3 separate regions of the Homo sapiens genome follow, and all the other regions are linked to region 3. The links come from fine-mapping of genetic effects on plasma protein levels. A gene starts in region 3. Each other region holds a variant in brackets. All regions are shown on one strand. Distances are between the middles of the regions.

Region 1 (5,224 bases), 110 kb before region 3:
CACGCATTGGGGCGGCCCACTTCTGGATCTTGATTCTGACAACTGCACTGCTGGGCTCGCTGCCTAGCTGGTGAGACCTCACAGCTGGATCAGCCCCTCCCGTGGCTCCTAGCCAAACCTCCTCTCCCAGTCCCACTATGCTGCGGTATCTACTTCCAGGGTCTGATTCCAGGGCTCCAACACCCTCCTTGCCTGCACCACCCTGGGCTGGGGATCTGGGACAGGAGGCATGCTGAGCCACAGGGTGGGGAAGATGGTGCCACTCTGGGAACTAGGGCTGGTGCTGGGGTGGAAATCAGGTGACCCCAGCCAGTGTGTGCAGTCTGGAGAGGCAGGTAGGAGACTGGCTAGGATATGTGTTTTTCTCCAGTCCTCATCCCTGCAAGGCAGCATCTCACCTGTTCTGGTCTAACTGGTCTCCTTCCTCTAACTCCTGCTGTGGTCCTGGCTGCATCACACTGTAGGCCCTTGGTCACATAACTCCTGGCACCATGACTCAGCTACTCAGTGTGGCTATGGCTAAGGTCCCTCACCAGCTTGCAGTGGAAATCTTGAATGTTTTTTGCACCTTTAAATGTAGCCCAGGCACGTGGTATATGCACAGTTAAATACTCATTTTTTTAGAGTTTTGGAGGCCAGGTGTGGTGGCTCATGATGACCATAATTCCAGCACTTTGGGAGGCTGAGGTGGGAGGATTGCTTGAGCCCAGGAGTTGGAAGCTGCAATGAGCTAGGATTGCACCACTGCATTCCAGCATGGGTGACAGAGTAAGATCCTATTTCTAAAAAAACATAATGATAATAAATAAAGTCTTTGAAACCCACATCATCCCTTTTTAGCCTTTTTTTTTTTTTAAGACAAGGTCTTACTGTGTCCTCCAGGCTGGAGTGCAGTGGTGCCATCATGGCTCACTACAGCCCCAACCTCCCAGGCCCAACTAGTGATCTTCCCACCTGAGCCTCCCAAGTAGCTGGGAGTACAGACACTTGTCACCATACCTGGCTAATTAAAAAAAAAACAGTTTTTGTAGAAATAGGGTCCCTCCATATTACCAGGGCTGGTCTCAAACTCCTGGGCTCAAGTAATCCTCCTGCTTCTCTTCCCAAAGTGCTGGGATTACAGGCGTGAGCCACTGTGCCCAGCCTCATTTAGTATTCAAGATTATGCTATGGCCGGGTGCTGTGGCTCATGCCTGTATTCCCAGCACTTTGGGAGGCTGAGGTGGGTGGATCACTTGAGGTCAGGGATTCGACACCAGCCTGGCTAATATGGTGAAACACCACTGCTATCAAAAAATACCAAAAAAATTAGCTGGGTGTGTTGGTGCGAGCCTGTAGTCTCAGCCACTTGGGAGGCTGAGGTGGGGGAATCGCTTGAACCCAGGAGGTGGAGGTTGCAGTGAGCCGAGATCACATCACTGCTCTCCAGCCTGGGTGACAGAGTAAGACCCAGTGTCAAAAAAAAAAAAAAAAAAAAAAAAGGAAAGAATAATGCTATGCAGTAGGCAGCATTATCATCCTGTACTGTAACTGAGGAAACTGAGGCATAAGTAACTTGCCCAAGATCACCAAGAGAAAAAGCAGAGAAGCTGGGATTAGAACCAAGGCCCGCTGCTGGCAGCCCACGGCCTCCTCTTTGATGAGGAACACTGACTCATCAGCCCAACAACCACAACTCCCCAACCACGACGACAGCACAGGCTGCTATTTTACAGTTCAGAATATTCAGAAGGGAAGGGAGACCACAAACACAGCAGCCCACTCATTCATTTACTTACTCTTTCAATAAACAAAACAAATAAACCACTGTATATGCCAGTCATGCACGGGGCATGGAGACTACAGTTCTCTGCTTGGTTCACATCTTCAACTTCTTTCCTTCTCCTGGAACCCCCACCTCACCCTTTTCTGCCTAGTGAATGACAGCTCCACCTCCAAGACTCAGCCACAGTTATCTTCTCCCTTAAGGACCTTGCCGTACTCATTTCTATTGGCACATGGTTGGGGCTCCAGAAATGTATGCTTTTGACCTAATGTGTCCCTTATAGTTCCATACATCACCCAAACCTCCAGCTCTGGTGTTTGTAAGCTGCTGATATTTAGGTATTGAAGAGTAGGAAGTAAGTTTATGTTGAAAAAGGTTTTGTGCAGATGTATCCTGTTTTACATAGTGAATACATTTTAGAAAGGTTGTAGGTACATGAACTTTTTATGAATTAAAATCCTGTTTTCTCACTGATGCATGTCTCTGAGGTGCCTTACCCTATTCTAGATTGTTATTAAAGTCCACTTTTTATAAATGCTTGGCCCTAATACTTAACAAGCAAGCTTTTCTCAAGTGATCCTCCCTATAGAAGGATAATAATCCATACACAATCCCTTAAGTCTCCTGATGTACCTTTATATTTAATAGAACACTTTTGGAATCTTTTTGTAACTAGTTATTATCTTTTTTGCAAAACTAATGATCATCTTTAGTTTATCGAATTTTATGTTCAAATTTTGGGAGCTGAAATTAATTCTGATTTTTATGTATACAGTTAAAATCCAATTGAACTAAATAGCTCAAACAAAACATGAGCAGTTCTTTGCAAACTGCGGTCCACCAGAAGAAATCACTTATGATTCTTTTTGGCTCAGCGATTTTCTTGCGTGGAGTCAGAGCTAAAGCCCACAAGCCACAAAGCTTCAATGAAAACATCTCAAGCCCTGTTAGTGCTGATGGGCACAGTCAGGCTGAGTTAGCAGGAAGTAAGTTGCTCGGATTGTCAGCATGCTCAGCAGATGCTGAAGGAACAGTCCTACACATGGTGCCTTCATCATATTCCTTGAATAGTGATGTTGAGATACAGTGGTCTATGGTCTTAAGCCAAGTCATGAAAGTCCTGACAGAGGAGGAATGGGGCAAAAGGTATTAGACCCCCATGACATAATTATATTGCTAATCTATACTTGAGAGAGTTCCATGGTCACAGTCACCACAGCAGTAACAGCAAATATTTCTCTGTGTGTGCATGTGTGTGTAACTTACTTGTGCACGTTTTTT[T/C]ATCTGGGTTAAGAGCAAATCCTTCATGGCACTGGCAAAGGTAGGAGCCATCAGCATTTACACACTCATGTTCACATCCGTGGTTTTCTGAGGCACAGTAGTCCACAGCTGGAGAGAATAAAACACATTCAGAATTAGAAATGCAAACAGAGGAAAAGGGAATGGTAGGATGAGGGCAAAATGATAACAGATATTAATTAGGATTAATATTATTGCCCCCCAAAAGAGTAGGATAAACAGTTATGAACCCAAGGTCTCTGCCCCCCTCAAAAAAAATCAGGAGTCTATATCAGGCAATTCATATAGGAAGATATAGGAAGTAAACTAAAGAACATGTGAACAATTGTATTTAAAAGTTAAAGAATTGCAAATCAAAATCATCACAAGGTGCACTTACACCTAGTAAACTGGCAAAAATAAGATGAGATAAAACCCAGTGGTAGAAAGGCAGCAGCGTTATTAATGGTAGGGGCATTATAAATTGAGAAAGATCCTTTTGGAAGGCAATTTGACAATGTTCACCCTGGACGTGAAACCCAAAGAAATAGCCAGGAAAAGGGTGAAATTATATACAATAAACTATTAATAGCATTGTTTACAACAACAACAAAAAATCCTAGAAAATAAGATGAACATTGAATAAGGGTAAATGATTTAACAATGTATGAGAAAATACACTGGCTGATTTTTCATTAGTTCCACAAATGTGTTCCTGTGTTCCACAAATATTTCATTTGTTTCATTAGTTCCACAAATATGTGTTCATTACACAAATATGTGTAATGAACAAAAATGTATTCATTAGTTCCTGAGTACCTACTACGGGCCAGGTCCTGTTTTAGGTGCTAGGGATAGAACAAGTAAGAAAATAATCCAAAATTCCAGCCCCCAAGGAGCGTATATTTGGATAATGATGCTGGGAGTGGGGAGCAGATAAGAAGTAAAATAAGTAAATAGCATAGTCTATTAGGAGATAAAGAAAATTCTGGAGAAAAGCAAAACAATGAATAGGAGTAGGGTCAGTGGGGGAGTGGGTAGCAGGTGGGATGTAATAGAGGTGGTCAGGAGAGGCCTCTCTGAGAAGGTGGGTGGTTAGGAAGAGTGTTGACTAAAATACGAGCCGTGAGGATATCTGGGAGAGGGTATCTTGGGCAAAACAAACAGCAAGTGCGAAGGCCAGGAGGTGGGACTCTGCCTGGTGGGCTGGAGGATCAGCAAAGAGGCCAGGGTGGCTGGAGGAGGGAGAGAGGTGGGAGATGAGAAGGGGGCAGTCAGGAGGGACCCATGGGCCATGCAAGGACCTCAGCTTTTAGTCTGAATGAGTTGGGAGTCACTGCAGGGTTCTGGACCCATGAGTCAAGAATAGACTGACAGGGCAAATCTGAGAGTAGAAAACCAGTAAGAAAGTGACTCCAGTAATCCCAGGGAGGAAGGGTGGAGGCTTAAACCAGGATGTTGCAGGGGATGAGGGGGAGTGGTGTTCTGGAAGTTATGGGTTGAATTATGTCCCCTAAAAAGACATGTTGGAGTCCTAAACCCTGGTACCTACGAATGTGGCCTTATTTGGAAATAGGGTCTTTGCAGAAGTAACCAAGTTAAAATGTGCTTATTAGGGTGGCGTGCTCTAATTCAATATGACTGGTGTTCTTATAAGAAGAGATCTGTCCCTACGACCCAAACACTTTCCAGCAGGTCCCACCTCCAACATTGGGAATCAAATTTCTTGTCTTTTTTTTTTTTTTTTTTTTTTTTTTTTTTGAGACAGGGTCTCACTTTGTCTCCCAGGCTGGAGTGCAGTGGCACCACCTCTGCTCACTGCAGCCTCAACCTCCTGGGTTCAAGTGATCCTCCTGCCTCAGCCATCCAAGTAGCTGGGACTACAGGTGTGCGCCACCACATCTGGCTAATTTTTATATTTTTAGTAGGAACGGGGTTTCACCATGTGGGCCAGGCTGGCCTCAACCTTCTGAGCTCAAGAGATCCACTGGCCTCAGCCTCCTCCCAAAGTGCTGGGATTACAGGCATGAGCCACCGTGCCTGGCCACAGAGGTCAAATTTCAACACGAGACTTGGTGAAGCCAAACAAACCATATCCAAACCACAGCATAGCTCTAGCAAACTAATACACCTGGTAAATACTGAAGGTGGGGCTAACAGGATTCCTGTTGGATTAGAGGT
Region 2 (5,224 bases), 23 kb before region 3:
CAACACAGAGCAGGCCATGCTTACATTTAATTCTCCAGGCAGCCAACAACTTCACATTGCTCACTTAGGAGGTTTCAGCTCATTATATGAAACGTATTGCAATTTTATGAATATTTTGATGTCAGGTTTAGAGATACATGCAAAAATGAAAATAAGTGTCTCTTAATACACTGTGATTCCCCAAGAGCAGAATTTGGGGCTGTGTAAGGTGAATTCTGCCAGGAGGAATGGTTCACACTTGTAATCCCAACACTTTGGGAGGCCAAGGCAGGAGGATTGCATAAGGCCAAGAATTTGAAACCAGTCTGTGCAACATAGTAAGACCCTGTCTCTGCAAAAAAATTAAACAATTAGTTGGGCGTGGTAGTACATGACTGTAGTCCCAGTTAGTTGGGAAGCTGACTTGGGAGGATCGCTTGAGCTCAGGCTGCAGTGAGCTATGATAGTGCCACTGCACTCCAGCCTGGGCAACAGAATAAGATCCTGTCTAAAAAAAAAAAAAAAAAAAAAAAAAGGTGAATTCTTAGATTTTCTTCATTAGTTTTTAAGTAGTAAATTAACTGTTATGAGTAAATTTTACTAAATGCTGTGGTGTCTACCCTGGAACACCTCTGGAATTCTTCCAGCAGTGTGTGTGGTGGGGTGTGGGGTGGGAGGGAGCTCAGGCCCTACCATCCCCTGACCAGACTGCAGGGCCAACTTCCTTTTAAATCTTTGTCTCCCACTTCTAGAATTGATGCCATATTGCCACAAAATGCTCTCTTAAAACACAAACATAACTTCTGAGTGTGTAGTATTGATCCAAAGGAGAGTCTATAATAGGAAAAGAAAAGGCTTTCAAGTTTAGTTAGCAGAAATAAAATGAGCCAGTTTGGTAAATTTAGAAAAGAATGCATATGTCAACAAGACCTCATAAGACAGACCACCACCAGAGACCACAAGCTGGCTGACTGTAGAGTAGTTTGTGGAGTGGAGGGAATCAAGAATACACTGGGGGCCGGGTGCGGCGGCTCACGCCAGTAATCCCAGCACTTTGGGAGGCCGAGGCAGGCGGCCAACATGGTGAAACCCTGTCTCTACTAAAAATACAAAAATTAACCGGGCGTGGTGGCAGGCACCTGTAATCCCAGCTACTCTGGAGGCTGAGGCAGGAGAATCACTTGAACCTGGGAGGCGGAGGTTGCAGTGAGCCGAGATCCCACCACTGCACTCCAGCCTGGTGACACAGCAAGACTCTATCATAAATAAATAAATAAATAAATAAATAAATAAATAAGAATACTCTGGGAGTTTGGGCAAGGAGGGTTAAGGTTTCCAAAAAGGCTGATATACCCCACTGGTTGTTCTGGAGACAGGTCCACCTCCTCATAGGAAAGTGGGGTAACAAAGAGAAAAAGTGTGCACAAACGAAGCAGGCGGCCATTAGCAGTGGGGCAGCATGCCTTCCAGTTAGCGCCCCCTTGAGGAGGGCCTAGCGAGGAGTGTGGAAGGGGATGGGTGCCACTGATAAGGCTGGTCAAGGGGAAGAATCCAAGTCCAAAGGGTTCTGGGTACAGCACAGTCAGATTCTCCGACTCTACCTGCCAGCGTTGTGGCCTGGAGGGGTCTTTGGGCTAGAGCAGGTGCTCGTTCCTTCTCCTGTTGCAGCCTGCTATTTAGATCCCTGCTCTTTGCCACAACCCAGGAAGGTCAAGTCTGTCCGGAGAGTACAGTGGGTGCAAAGACAAAGCGACACCCACTGTTGACTGCTTAAAGCCCTCCACAGCTCCTACCCCTGCAAAATGAAGCTCAAAACTCCTTCCTTGGAGCCCTCGAGGTCCTAAATTATTGCTGCCTTATCTCCAGCTCAGACCACCTGTCTGGCAGACCCAGCGCCACATCGGAGCCCCACTGCCACACTCCATCCTCATGCCTCTGCCACCTGCTGTCCCACAGGGCTCTCCGTGGGCAGGACCTTCACTGGGAACAATTCTCTTAAACCAGCCATTCTCAAGTGTAGTTTGGGGAATTCTAGGGGTCCCTGAGGCCTTTTCAGAGGATCCATGAGGTCAGAACTATTTCCATAATAACATGAATGTTTGCCTTTCATACTCTCATTCTCTTGTGGGTATATAGAGAACAAAAAGTTTATTGATCTGATTTTAGATTTC[A/G]CATTGCAACTAAACTTTAAGAAACTACTCTTTGTCAAGTTTTGGTGTAGTATCAAAGAACATTCACAATTATATGAAAAGGCTATTTAAATGCTCTTCCCTTTTCCAACTACATATCCATGCATTTTCATATAATCTAACGAAAACATTTCATGACAGATTGAATGGTCAAGAAATGACAATCTAGCTGTCTTCTACGAAGCCAGACCGTTACAAGATTTGCAAAACTGTAAAACGGTGCTACTCTTCTTTTTTTTTTTTTTTTTTTTTTTGAGACAGGGTCTCACTCTGTCACCCAGGCTGGAGTGCAGTGGCACCATCACGGCTCACTCATGCAGCCTCGACCTCTGGGGCTCAAGTGATCCTGCAGCCTAAGCATTTCAATTAGCTGGGACTATAGGTGTGTACCACCACACCCGGCTAATTTTTTTTTTTCTTTCTTTTTTTTTTTTGAGACAGTTTCACTCTTGTCACCCAGGCTGAAGTGCAGTGGTGTGATCTCGGCTCACTGCAACCTCCGCCTCCCGGGTTCAAGTGATTCTCCTGCCTCAGCCTCCGGAGTAGCTGGGATTACAGGTGCACACCACCAAACCAGGCTAATTTTTGTATTTTTAGTAGAGACAGTTTTTCACCATGTTGGCCAGGCTGGTCTCAAACTCCTGACCTCAAGTGATCTGCCCACCTCAGCCTCCCAAAGTGCTGGGATTACAGGTGTGAGCCACTGTGCACGGCCTCATTTTTTTATTTTTGTAGAGACAAGGTATCCCTATGTTGCCCAGACTGGTCTCAAACTCCTGGGCTCAAGTGATCCTTCCACCTCAGCCTCCCAAAGTACTGGAATTACAGGCATGAGCCACTGCACCTGGCCAGAAAATATAGTTTTTTATACATATATAGTTTGTTAACACATTCTGATTTTATTATTGTTATTTTTAAATTTCTGATCAGGTAGATACCAATAGATCTAACCCACATAAACAAAGCTCCCTTGATTGTCCTCAGGATTCTTAAAAAACAAACAAAAGTTATTTGGGATCCTTAATAATTTTTGGCTGGGCACAGTGGCTCACGCCTAGAATCCCAGCACTTTGGGAGACTGAGGGGGGAGGATCGCTTGAGCCCAGGAGTTCAAGATCAGCCTGGACAACATGGCGAAACCCTGTCTCTACAAAAAATACAAAAATTAGCCAGGCGTAGTGTCATGTGCCTGTAGTCTCAGCTACTTGAGATGCTGAGGTTGGAGGATTGCTTAAGCACAAGAGGTCAAGGCTGCAGCGAGCCATGATCATGCCACTGCACTCCAGCCTGGGAGACAGTGAGACCCTATCTCAAAATAAAATAAAATAAAATAATAAAATAAAAATAATTTTTAGCGTAAAAGGAAGGATCCTGAGACCAAAGCTTGAGAACCACTGCCTTACACTAAGCCTGCTCAGCAGGCAGAGTTGAGCTATAATGTAGCTATGCCTCTACTTTTGCACACCGATTCTACCAAATTAATGATCTTTTCACATGCCTGTCTCTTCCACTACTCTGTGCACCTCCTGATGGTGTCTATTCATCTTAAACACTACCCCCACACCCCCAACCGGCATCTGGCACAGAGTAGAAATTCCAGATAAATGAATGAGGTAAGAGATAAGCCCATGTGGACAGACATCACAGGCTGCCGAGTGAACAGCCCACAGATGTTCACAGGATGGTGGATATATACATGCGTTATTTTTTCAAACTGACTCAAGTTGTTACTGAGACTCTGACCTGAATTTAAACATAAAAGATAAACATTTTTAAAACCCAGAAAGTTCAAAAAAAATTAACCTAAGAAACAATTCTGCTGTTTCTACTCTGTTAAACTTTCAGGAACATACTTGCAAGCAAATAACCAGTAAAATCCATCATGCCAGTGGATGCCATAACTTCAGCCAAAATGATTTGCCATTAAAAAGTGAAATGTGGCCTGGGCCATATTCTGAACAAATAGTCCAAGAGCCAAGAGAAGCAAACATGCATAAAATACAAAACACTACATTATTCTAAGAATGAAGAGAAGGTCATACCCTCGGGGCAAGGACTACCAATGAGCATGCTTTTCCATTTTTGTTCCCCATCAAAATGAGAAAAAAAAAAGCAGATTGCACTTGAGAATCCAGGCCACAGCTATAGTGTTTGCTTTCTGGTTTCATGATTGTCACTCCACTATTTTCTTTTTTTTTTTTTTTTGAGACAGAGTCTCACTCTGTCACCCAGGCTAGAGTGCAGTGGCACGATCTTAGCTCACTGCAACCTCCACTTCCTGGGTTCAAGCGATTCTCCTGCCTCAGCCTCCCGAGTAGCTGGGATTACAGGCACCCGCCACCATGCCCAGCTAATTTTTGTATTTTTAGTAGAGACAGGGTTTCACCATGTTGGTCAGGCTGGTCTCGAACTCCTGACCTTGTGATCCGCCCACCTCGGCCTCCCAAAGTGCTGGGATTGCAGGTGTGAGCCACCATGTCCGGCCCACTCCACCATTTTCATAAGCCAAGCAGCCCTCCAGCATATCTGGGAGCAGCCACTTGCACAGCTCACGGAGTGAAAACACCCATGCCCACTTCCAGTCTTGGGGTGGGAAAGATAGGTTGTGCCCCATCCTCCTCTTTGTCTCTGACACATTCTCTTGAAAAATGAGAAGAAGGAATCAATGCTGGATGCAGGGTTGGTGCCTTTAGCAAAATGGGCTTCTAGGCAAAGGAGGACGACAGTGAATGCTGACAACCAGGGAAGGTGGGGGTGATGTGGTCTGTGTGTGTGTATCAGAGGGAGGAAGGGAGGGAGAGAGAGACTTGGAGCCTAGAGAAGCAGTGTGCTTTTCCAGGCAAGTGTGTGGTGGCTTTTCCTGAGACCAGCCCCATCAGAAACCCAACTGGGCAGTTACTGCTGGTGATCCAGAAATCAGGTATCTTGGCCATGCGTAGTGGCTCATGTCTGTAATCCCAGCACTTTGGGAGGTCGAGATGGCAGATCACTCGAGGCCAAGAGTTTGAGACCAGCCTGGCCAACATGGCAAAACCCCATCTCTACTAAAAATACAA
Region 3 (5,224 bases):
TCAAAGCCACTGTCATAGTCATTAACACCAATTACTGGCAACAGCCCAGCCCTGCCATTCCATCTGAGCCCCCTTCAGGCAGTATTGGCTGTCTGCCGAGCCACATGGCAGGGTTCAAGGATGGCCTCATGGGCTGAAGCTCCAAGTGGCAAGTGGCCCCTTGGAAGGACCTCCCTGGCACCATTCACTAGCAACAGCAATGACATTCCCCATTCTCCCCTTGGCATATGCTCAGCCTCCCTCTTTCCCTGGCCCTCCTGAGTTATCTTGCCATATGCTTTAAACAGGGGAGTCCTCCATAGCTTCCCTAGAAGACGGGGAATCCCTGGAAGGGACGCTCCTGCAGGTGCTACAGATCAGAGGGCAGTGAGTGCCAGGGGCAGCACTAGAGGCTCTCTGCCAACTTGACTGGTCTTAAACCACTCACCTCTCCTACTGCTTGCCCAGCCTCATACCCAACACCTTGCTCAGGCCAGCGTTAGACCTGTCACACCCTCTTCGGCCTGCTTTTCCTGAGGCCTAAGCCGGTCTCTCCCCCTTTTAGTCTCCCCACCTCACTCCTTGCCCTCTCTTAGGTGCCAGTCAGAACTGTTTCTAAATAAACTGTAGAATTATTTTTCCAGAACCTCCAATGGCTCTCTTATTTCAAAGAGCAAACATCTCTCCTTTTCTTTAAATCTCAGGCCACACTTTTAACTACCTTTTGCTAAACAAGGACATATGGCACTCGCTGATAAGAGCTTAGGGCATGACAGCTGCTCGAGGGTGTTTCAGATTTGGACTCTGCTCTGACACCTCCAACAAGCAAGCTTAGGCCTTGGTGGCCCTGGGTTGCCTGGGAACAAGAAACCCCAGAGCCCCGATTTATAGAAGACAGTGTCCTGGTAACTCGGGGGCCTGAGATTGAATTCTATTGGCAGAAATAAAAGTAAAAAGTGTGGACAGATAGGAAAATGCAAGGTGAAGAGCCATAAGTATCTCATTCTCCACAGAGGATTCTAAGTGCCAAGTTTCAGGGACTGAGAGGAAACATTCCAGGTCATAAACCCATGTTGGTATTTTGACATGGTTTTATGAGGTTGGCCCTTTGGGAGCAAGCAGGGAGAACTGCGCCCGTGTGGACTCCTGCATGGAACTACCAGTTGCATACACGTGGCTTATCTGCCACCCTCACGTACCCATGGAGAGCCTCTCTTTCTGAACTGGGGAAGAGGTACATTCACTGCTCATAGCAGCTCCTTGCTATTTCTGCAAAGACAAGCCATGGAACTCACCTAATCTTAGAATGCTCCTGGAAATGTTCTAAGGACTTTACTTGCCATATCTTTTTTTTTTTCTTTTGAGACGGAGTTTAGCTCTTGTTGCCCAGGCTGGAGTGCAATGGCACCATCTCCGCTCACTGCAATCTCTGCCTCCTGGGTTCAACCGATTCTCCTGCCTCAACCTCCCGAGTAGCTGGGATTACAGGCATGCGCCACCAAGTCCGGCTAATTTTGTATTTTTAGTAGAGACGGGGTTTCTCCATGTTGGTCAGGCTGGTCTCGAACTCCCGACCTCAGGTGATCCGCCCGCCCCGGCTTCCCAAAGTGCTGGGATGACAGCCCTGAGCCACCGTGCCCGGCCGCCATATCTCATTTAATCCTCACAGTTCTGTGGGTATTACCATCCTCATTAGACAGATGAGGAAACTGAGGCATACTTGGGTACCTTCAAGTTATCAACCCTGTAAACTTCACAGCTGGGGTTGAAACCCAAGCAGGCTGACCCCAGTCTCTGCTCTCGACCACGGGTCCCTGAAGTCTCTTGACTGCCCCATTCCTTAAAGGCCGATTTTAAGTGTGCTTGGTGCAGATGCATTGTGGCTTCCTGATTTATGACAAATTGAAACTTGGTCAATTGGGTTTGTTCAGGGTGGGCGCGAGTGTCCCTGAGGAGAGCACTTTCCTGTGCCCCCAGTCCTGGAGACCCTACCAGGGACAGTCCCCATTTCTCTGTCCTCTCCCCAAACGGCTCCAAATTGTTCTGGGGTTTCTAGCAACTACCACAAAATGCCTTCCCCTTTCTCTCCCTCTTCCACAATATAGGGAAGCTGGAGGTTTAGCTGCCATAGAGACCCAAGAACAAAATCCAGATGACACGGGCATGAAAATACCAGGTTCCGAAGAGGGAAGGGGGAGCCATCGGCTGTCCGTGGAATAGGAATCACCCTGCATACCCGCTCAACAGGTCTCCCTTTCCCTGGGTCGCGGTGGCCGGGGTCTGGGCGTCCCCGCTGCGTGCCACAGCGCCCCCACGGGGCACTCCGGGGCGGCTGCAGCGCGGCTTGTCCTGCGCAGGGAGCGCGCCCAGCTCTCCCGGCCGAGGGGTCGGGCAGCGCCGCCCTCCCTCTCCCCCTGTCCTCGGAGGGGTCGAAGGCGCCGGGGCCCCGGGGCGCTGGGGGCTGCAGTGCGGGCCTGGGGAGGGCGCCTGCGCGTCGGGCAGCCCAGGCTCGGTATTCTGTCGGTGGGTCGGTCCGCCTGCACTTCGAGGCCGCCCGGCCGCGCAGAGCCGGGGGAAAGCGCGCCGCGCTCACCTGCAGCCGCCGGCGCCTGGGAAGCGAGGCAGGGGCGCAGCCACCCGGGTCTTCCTCGTCGGCCTCTTCGCCTCGCCGAGGGCCGCGGCTCTCCTCGGGGATCGCTCGTGGGAGGCGAGGACGGAGCCCCAGCTTCTGCCTCTGCCTCTGTCTCCGCCGCCGCCGCTTGCTCCAAGTCCCATCCCAGAGCGCTCCCTTCGCTCGCTGGCTGCCTGGGAGGCGCTGGGCAAGGGCGGGCGGCTGGGGAGGCGGTGCCGCGGCGGGGGTGGGGAGCGGGCCGGGCGGAAGGAGGGGTGTCCTCTTTGGGGATGGGGAAGGCGCGGAGAGGGAGCGGCGGCGAGGGCGGCCCCACCCTGTGGGCAGCCCCGGGAGCTGGGCACTCTGGCGGCGCGCCCTGCCTGCTGCCACCTGGCTCCACTCCGTCCGTGCCTGAGCCCAGGCGGGCATCAGACTCCAGGGGTCCGGAGCCGCAGGCACGGAACACAGGCAGCTTTAGGGGCCTGTCGGGTTGGGAGTGCGGGGAGGGGTCTTCTGGGGGAAAGGAGACATGGCAGGAATCTTACATCTAGAACTTGGGGTCATGACCTGCGGGACGCACCCACTGACGCGGGGATGGAGAAAAAAGTGGTGAGAATTGGGCTAATTGATGACAAGCGCCAAGAGCTGTCTTGCCAGTGCCCAGAGCACCCCACCAGTGCCAGTTCATATTAACAGAGCGTCCACTGGCTGGGGACCAGGCCCCGGGATGGGGAGGAGGTAAAGATGCCAGGATGGAGAGGAGACAAAATTCCTACCCCGAGGGAGCAGGGAAAGTCTAGTTCAGACAAGACTTTTGAAATTATGAGCAGAGACATTTGCAACTTTGCAGAATGGAGGAACCTCACCTTGGATGTCCCCATGGAGCCTTGGAGGGATGCAGAAGACAGGATTGGCCAGCGACAGTCAAAGTGGCCGGCACCCCCCTCTACCAGCTCCCCAGTTCCTGGAGGCTGGGGTGAGTGGATGTATAACAGACCAGGACATCTCCTATAAAGCTCCAAAATTCTGTTCCCAAACCACTAGCCAACGCACCCAGTTCAGGTTTTGTGTTTTTGTTTGTTTGTTTGTTTTTTGAGACGGAGTCGCCCAGGCTGGAGTGCAGTGGCGCAATCTTGGCTTACTGCAAGCTCTGCCTCCCGGATTCACGCCATTCTCCTGCCTCAGAGTAGCTGGGACTACAGGCTCCCGCCACCACGGCCGGCTAATTTTTTTTGTATTTTCAGTAGAGACGGGGTTTCACCGTGTTAGCCAGGATGGTGTCGATCTCCTGACCTCGTGATCCGCCCGCCTCGGCCTCCCAAAGTGCTGGGATTACAGGCGTGAGCCACTGCGCCCGGCCCCAGTTCAGGTTTTAACAAGCTACCAGCAGAGGCAGCAGCACTAACTAGTTTCAAAACCTCTGGATGTGCCACAGTCTGATAATTTGGTGCTTTGGGCGGACTTTGTTTTGTAATTAACCATCATTCCTATTTGATGATAGAGTTGATTTCTGAAATATGAATAAACGCCAAAATCAATTCTTCAGAAAAGCTCCAGGAGGGGTAATTAAAATTCCAGCCATGAAGCAAGGGGTTAACATACTCGAGCCATCAGGCAAGTCAATGATACCTTAATACCAAGAAAGAATTGTGGATTCCTGTTCCTTTACCCAGTACCTTAGGCCCACTGGGCACTCTTGGCTGCCTGCACTGATCACAAATAGTTTTTTTGTTATGTCTTTGGGAGGAGGTAGGTGGAGGTCAGAAAGCAGAGGAAAGTCTTCAGGAAATGTTTGGTCTCTGAAGTCTTGGATCCCATAGAAGAAAATTCTTCCTGAGTCTGGGCCAGTGAAAATCCCCTAGGAACTTGGGAAGTTGAGCTACAGTTTATGGAAACTTAAATTTAAAATGTGTTGACTTATTCCAAGACACCAGTGTGATCCAGTAATTTACCAGGAAAACAATAACAATCCCCAAACCCTTCCAAATTGTAAGGAAATTGTAATTTAGTAACTGATTCCAGTGACTCTGGTGTATGCCAATTAAAATGGGTGTTTTCCCCCCAGGGAGTTCTATTGGAATTCTTCAGAATAGTTAATCTATGTACAAATTACACTTGGGGCCAAGTCAAATAGGTTAAATGAGTTGTTCTACCTTGTGGGATGATCTTCAGGTCTGCCAGAAAAAAATGAAGGAAAAGCAAGTTCAATGTCCTGAAATATAAAGGCAGAACAAACAATGAAATGATTTCTGGGTTACCTTCAGGATGAATTGCAAGTTGATAATTAAGACTATAGATTAGGAAAAGGCCAAAATTGCCTTTTCTGCTAGAGGTCCTGCCATGTGCTAGATGTACAGAGAACCTTATTCAGAAGTGTGGGTTTAAGATTTTTAGTTCTGGGACTGGGCGATGGCTCACACCTGTAATCCCAGCACTTTGGGAGGCTGAGGCGAACTGATCACTTGAGGTCAGGAGTTCTAGACCAGCCTGGTCAACATGGTGAAACCCCGTCTCTACTAAAAATACAAAAGGTAGCCGGGTGTGGTAGTGGGCGCCTATAATCCCAGCTACTCAGGAGGCTATAATCCCAGCAACTCAGGAGAATCGCTTGAACCTGGGAGGCGGAGGTTGCAG

Direction of the effects. Alleles are on the strand shown, and positions count from the first base shown. The strength of an association depends on the size of the effect and on how common the allele is.
As copies of T replace C in region 1, the plasma level of the protein whose gene starts at base 2,796 in region 3 goes down (strong association).
As copies of A replace G in region 2, the plasma level of the protein whose gene starts at base 2,796 in region 3 goes down (weak association).

The links. PIP is the chance, under the fine-mapping model, that this variant and not a neighbour inherited with it causes the effect. The UK Biobank Pharma Proteomics Project read protein levels with antibody pairs (Olink). The fine-mapping took linkage between variants from a reference panel, not from the people measured, so its PIPs are less certain.
Region 1: its variant is fine-mapped to the plasma level of the MATN2 protein (UK Biobank, PIP above 0.99). The variant lies in the coding sequence of MATN2. If it changes the protein, the assay may bind it differently, which can mimic a change of level.
Region 2: its variant is fine-mapped to the plasma level of the MATN2 protein (UK Biobank, PIP above 0.99).

The regions. Positions count from the first base shown.
Region 1 is chr8:97,976,816-97,982,039 of GRCh38, reverse strand. It overlaps MATN2 (matrilin 2), which reads right to left. Exons shown (of 19, transcript NM_002380.5): 6 at 3,032-3,154. Among named protein-coding and RNA genes, the nearest start is that of SNORA72, 63 kb to the left of the region's middle. RefSeq lists an enhancer at 1,849-1,898. The variant T/C (reference allele first, on the strand shown) is at 3,047.
Region 2 is chr8:97,889,614-97,894,837 of GRCh38, reverse strand. All of the region lies in intron 2 of MATN2 (matrilin 2), which reads right to left. Among named protein-coding and RNA genes, the nearest start is that of MATN2, 23 kb to the right of the region's middle. The variant A/G (reference allele first, on the strand shown) is at 2,151.
Region 3 is chr8:97,866,636-97,871,859 of GRCh38, reverse strand. It overlaps MATN2 (matrilin 2), which reads right to left and starts at 2,796. Exons shown (of 19, transcript NM_002380.5): 1 at 2,573-2,796. RefSeq lists an enhancer at 3,196-3,695.